Linked DNA regions of Homo sapiens: region 1 is linked to region 2. The links come from fine-mapping of genetic effects on gene expression. A gene starts in region 2. The other region holds a variant in brackets. All regions are shown on one strand. Distances are between the middles of the regions. Region 1 has its middle 24 kb from the start of DUT-AS1. Region 2 holds the start of DUT-AS1 (DUT antisense RNA 1).

The links. PIP is the estimated chance that this variant, and not a neighbour inherited with it, causes the effect.
Region 1: its variant is fine-mapped to the expression of DUT-AS1 in whole blood (INTERVAL, PIP above 0.99).

What each region holds. Positions count from the first base shown.
Region 1 is chr15:48,354,414-48,357,323 of GRCh38, reverse strand. No RefSeq gene overlaps it. Among named protein-coding and RNA genes, the nearest start is that of DUT-AS1, 24 kb to the right of the region's middle. The variant G/AG (reference allele first, on the strand shown) is at 1,435.
Region 2 is chr15:48,330,624-48,333,533 of GRCh38, reverse strand. It overlaps DUT-AS1 (DUT antisense RNA 1), which reads left to right and starts at 1,678. Exons shown (of 3, transcript NR_186809.1): 1 at 1,678-1,971. DUT (deoxyuridine triphosphatase) reads right to left here and starts at 2,105. Exons shown (of 7, transcript NM_001025248.2): 1 at 1,739-2,105; 2 at 1,128-1,266. The coding sequence starts at 2,018. RefSeq lists enhancers at 1,328-1,622, 1,546-2,070, 2,071-2,597 and silencers at 1,328-1,622, 1,673-1,882.

The DNA.
Region 1 (2,910 bases), 24 kb before region 2:
AGAAATTGAAAGATGGTGTTTAAATTTAGTATTTTCTTTCCTTGCAAGGAAAGGAAACTTGGAAAATGCAACTGTAACCCAAAGGCCAGCTGTCTGGCTGTCCCCAAGTCTTCCAGTCTTCCAGAGTCACTCTTCATTTTAATAACAGCACACACACACACACACACACACACACACACACAGACACACACACTACTATATAAAACTCCCATCTGACTTCTATGGAAGAACTAGCATCCCTTCACCTCCAATCTTTTCAAGGATTCTCAGGAGCTCTGCTTATTCTTAATCTCGGCTGCGCATCAGGCTTCTCACTACTTTTTCTTCACCCATTTTGGCCCAGATGCAAACTCTTTTGCTTTTAGTCCCCCTCTAAAGTCCCACTGACACTAAAGGAGTGGATTTGACTGAAGTTTGGGTAATAAGAGGGGAGCTACCGTACAGATAGCTCGGAAAACAGATTAAAATGTAATCTGTGAAGTGATACAATGTCTGGGATTTGTTTCAAAATAATTCACTGGGGGTTGGGAGTGGGCAAGTAGGTAGGGATACGGAAGAAACAAAATCAGCTATGAGAGGATCATTGTTAAAGCTGAGTGATGATTACACGGGGTTCATTATACTTCTCATTCTGCTTTTGTATATGCTAGAAATTTCCATAATATAAATTTAGAAGAAGTGTCTTGGCACTCCTTGATGCAGGAAATTTCTCACTGGTCCTTTCTCTGATTAGCCTCCTACCATATTTTGGCGTTCCTGCCCCCTGCTAACCACCCCTGCCACCAACTCCTGAGTCCCTCACATCTCTCTGCCTCTCCTTCTCAGCCTGCCCAAACAAGCCCTTGAGCTCTGAGATCCTACTCTAACATTTGAGTAGCCCATCAGAATGGCTTGCTGACTCCCTAAAAATAAAGAGACCAGTTTTCACCCTAAGAGTAAATTCTGCCCCTAGGTTTACAATACCTCATTCAGGTAAAAGGAACACAACTAGAATAGCACCTGGTGTATATAGCACTTAAAAAATGTTAGCTCTCTTCCTTTTATTATTTGTATTCTAATTTAAGTTATGAAAATCAATTCTAAAATTTGGACACAGATAATTATATTAGAACAAAGCAGTTTAAAAGATGATACTCTGGCTGGGCGCGGTGGCTCACGCCTGTAATCCCAGCACTTGGGAGGCCGAGGCGGGTGGATCACTTGAGGCCAGGGATTTGAGACCAGTCTCGCCAACATGGTGAAACCCCGCCTCTACTAAAAATACAAAAATTAGCCAGGCATGGTGGCGGACACCTGTAATCTCAACTACTCAGGAGGCTGAGGCAGGAGAATCTCTTGAACCCAGGAAGCAGAAGTTGCAGTGAACCGAAATCGTGCCACTGCACTCCAGCCTGGGCAACAGAGCAAGACTCTGTCTCAAAAAAAAAAAAAAAA[G/AG]GTGATACTCTATGCCTACGAAGTAAAATGTGGCAGGCAGATGATTATTTTGCCTTCTAAACAAGAGATGTTCAATATAGACACAAATAAAACTATCTTTAAGTAATAATATTAATACGTATTTTCTCTCCCAACCACACTACAGTAGCCAAAAGGCTAAGCAGTTCTCACAGCCCCTGCTCATCAGAGGTGACCTAGAAGGCTGAGGAATCTGAACTCCCAGATGAGCTGTACTGGGGGAGAGGGCGGTGCAGGGGGTGGAACCTAGCGTGAGTACCCAGCCTCTCTTCTACCTTCGTCAGCATCAACTGGCAACAGCTCCTTTCACTTCACTTTGTCTACTTTGGCCTAGAAAACACAGGCTTTGCTTAGTGCAGCTCTGAAGTCAGCTGAGGTTAATGTTCAAACCCCACAGAAGGTGTGCGTCTGAAGAAAGGAAGTGAAGTTTCGTAAGGGAAAGGATTTTTTGTTTCAAAATATGTGTGGGGAAATAATAAGAGAATTCATCTGGATAATTATGTTAACAATACAAGGTAGAAACTGCATGTTGTCCATATTTCACATTCCCAGGAGGGAGAACAGAGATTCAGAGATTTGGGGTGCGATAAAGTAGCCGTGGCTTTTGCAGCCTCATGCCAAACACATCTGAGCAAGGGACACAGAAAAGTGGATGTGTTACCGCTGGCCTGTGCCATTGTCCCCAAACACACATGAGACAATGTCAGCACTTACTTCTAGCTCTAAATTGAAAAAACACTTCCTCTCTTTCTGCGAGCACCATTTTCCCTCCCACTCACCCCTGGAGTCTGACACAGTTTCCATTCCAAGGAGACCGGGTAATGATTCCAAGGAGAAAGGGTAACATACTTCAGCAAAAGAGCTGGCGGACAGTGTGAGACGGGCGCAGGGATCAGTTTAGGCTGAAATGAATTAGGAAACATTTTTAACTTGCCCTTTGAAGTTTTTATTGCCTTATCATCAAACGACTTCTCTTCTTGGGCTGTATATTGATTTTTCTGACTATGAAAAAGTGTTTCATCTCTTCTATGATAATCAAACAGTCTCAGTCAACAGCACCTTCTTTTTTCTAAACCATATTATTTCACTATTACACAATTATCCTACACTCCTCATCTGACAGGAACCTCATACAGCATTAGTCTTTTTCTAATATTATTTTCCCTAACATCCTCATTCCAAACATTTCCATTTCAAACATGTAGCTGCAGGGCATTATATCATTATTTGCCTTTGCTCTCATCGAAGTATATTTTATGAGAGCTTCCTGTCATTTATCCTGATCTATGCTACTATTTGTCAAAGCATCACCTCTGCTTCTCTGTCTGCTTCTCTAAGATGCCAGAAAAAAAAAAAATTTCTTCTCAACTAAAAGTTAAGCCATTATAAATCCCACAGGGATTTTAAAATGGGCACACTTGGGATTTTATTTTATTCTAAGTAGAATGTTCTTTCTGA
Region 2 (2,910 bases):
TTTAAACAGTTAAGCCCTAATTTATTGCTGATCCATTATTTCCATGTCAATTTCAGTATACAGAAAGTCACCTGTGTTTATTAGGAGTCTACTTAAGGTATCTTAAATCAAGGACTCCCCTAGGACTCAAGAAAGTGCTCCAAAATATACTTTGGAAAGGTCTAGTCAAACTATATCACTCTACTTTTATTCATCAAAATTAAGAGACTGTAGTTTTTCCAGCTACAATTGTCCATACCTACTTTCCTTTTCCTTTTTTTTCTGTTGCTATCATCAGGCACTACTTTCTCTTCTCCTGTGCTTAGACTAATAGTTCTCATGTTTGAATTATCTGAGATACTTTAAAATAAATCCCAATGCTTGGGATTTAGTATAAAATCTCCTTCCCTCTCAGCATTACTTTTCTCCTACCTTAATGGTTCTAAGAACTGGGCACAGTAGTCAGATGAAAAAAAAAAAGCCCAAAATTCGGGATAAAAAATTATATCATCTTCAAGCCTCTGGGGAAATCAATTCAGCTCTTCACAAACTCCTGCCTGTGTAAAAAGTAACACTTATCTAGTTAAGGATTGTTGTGAGGACTAAATACAACAGCATACGGAAAGTTTTTAGTACAGGTAAAACGTGCTGTAGAGATGAAAGTGTGGTAGATTACAGGCAGCTCTGCCTTTCGTTTTCAGATGCCTTCTCAAATTCCGCCCTGGGCCGGATGAATGTATAGAAAATAACTTTTTAAGGCAGATGCATCTTCGTTCATCCTTCTTAGGTATTTTCACGCTCACATCTAGGCTCTCACCTTGGTTTTTCTATTGAGCACAGCATCACCCTCGGGCCACTCGAAAGCCACCATGGGCCTTCCTCTCTATCTTCTATTTAGGAAGGGCACAATAAACGTTGCAAAGTAACGCCTTGCTAGACACCGTATAGCTATTTTACTTATTCTGCAGTCTTTGCCCAAATCTCTATTTAATTTATGCCAAAGATGAAAGCTAAAATTTTAAACACGAAAAAGGCAGAAATCCTATTTATAGCTAGTGTGTTCCTGTGATCTCTCCGGTGACTGTTTCTAGCTGTGGCAGCGGACGGCCGGCCCTTCCCAGCCTCCTCGCCGGCAGGTCCCCGCTCACCTGTACAGGTCGTAGCCCGCGGCGCGCGCGGAGCCCCGGGTGGGGGCCGTGGCGTGCTCGGAGAGCCGGGCAAAGCGGAGCTGCATGCCGCCCACCTCCGCAGGCCGGGCCCGCTTACTGGGTGAAATGGCGGGTGTCTCTTCAGAGCAGGGCATGGCAGAGCCAGAAGGCGAGCGAGGAGACCACCGGGGGAAGAGGAGAGCGCACGATGAGCGTCGCCGCAGGGAGCGCGCCAAAACCGAAATTTCCCGCCAGCCCCGCCCCACCCACCGCCCCTCCCCGGGACGAGTCCACAGTTCTGGCTGAGAGGGGAGGCGGGATTCACATTTTGGGTTTGAAGCCCTTCTCGGAAAGCAGGTTTGGGATGGGAAACTACTGGGTCCCAGTCAACTTTCCACATTCAGCGCGTGGGGCCAACTTTGAAGGGGAGCTTCTAGGGCGTCGCCCTCACACACTAGAAAGCCGCCCCCTCGCCAGGGGACCCTAATGGACCACCCCACCCCCCCCGCCCCCCGCGCGCAGAAGGACCGCTCGCCACCCTACTTCCCCCACAGCCTCAAGCCGCGTGGATTCCTTCCAGACGGCCGGAGCCCCTCCCCCGCCTTTCCTACCCGGCCCCGGCGCCGGGCTTCCCCCCGCCTTAGGAAGCTCGCCCTTCCAGCCAGCGGCCCCGACTGTACTGGCTCCGCGGCAGCCTTGGCTCAGGCGGCCAGCGCTGGACAGCGGCCGGGGAATCCCGTGCTGCGCGGCGCGGCCGAGGGGCGGGCCTGGCCCGGAGAGTACCGCGGCTTCGGCCCTCTGCCGTGCGCCTCGCGCGTTTTGCATCGCTGAGCGAAGCAGAGACGTAAGGAAATGGTAGCAGAGCGCGGGGCGAGGGCAGAGGGGAGTCATTTCCCCCAGAGTTTGGGCTGGTTGGGTCCTCGGCACCTCCGGACGTGCGCCAGGCTTCCACCCTGAAGACGCGCCCGTCCTGGGAACATGACCTCGGAAGCAGTCGCAGCCGCCGCCGGACGAGGGGCGTGGAGAGGCGGTGCCCCGGCAGCCCAGGGATGGCGCAGGCCCTGGGGCCCCAGGAAGACGGCGCCGTTGGCGTCTTGAGTCTTGCTGCCGCCTCTGGCTGCCTAGCCCTCTTGCTTTCGCTCTTCTTGTTTGCTCTGGCCCCCATTTTTCCGAGAGTGTACGCCAGGCCCGGGCCCTGCTCCTGGACTGATTTACCTGGGGCGGCACCGCCCGCAGCCATGACTCCCGGGCTCTGAGTTTAGCGGCGCCCTAAGCGCCGGAACCGCATCTCGGCGCCGGTGACAGTTATTGCGCCCGGGGCCGCTCCCCAAGCTGTGGGCAAGACACCGCGCCCGATTTCCTTTCAGCACCGAGTGTCAGACGTTGTAGTGTTTATTCGACCGGAGGCAGGGAGGGCGCTACTATCCTATCACAGGTTTGGGATAACCCAACAGAAACGCAGTGGGAACCCCTTGGCTAGGAGTCGAACAAGGATCCCGGGTCGTGGTAGTATAGTTTACAGTGGGGGATAAAGCAGTAACTTTCTAGATAGTTGTTAATAATTTTTTCTGAGCTGCAAGTATCTCCTTATTTCTCACAAAAATCTGCGAGCTGAATTGAATGGTTTTGAATTTTCAAAATTAAAAAAGCTGTGGGGCAGTTTTAGAGTATTATTGGGGAAATTTTACATTCGTTGCTATGCCTTTCCATACAGGCCCCCCCTTTTCGGTCTCCTTAACTGGTTCGTCTTCGTAGTTGGAATTCCTTTGCATGAGGCTATGGA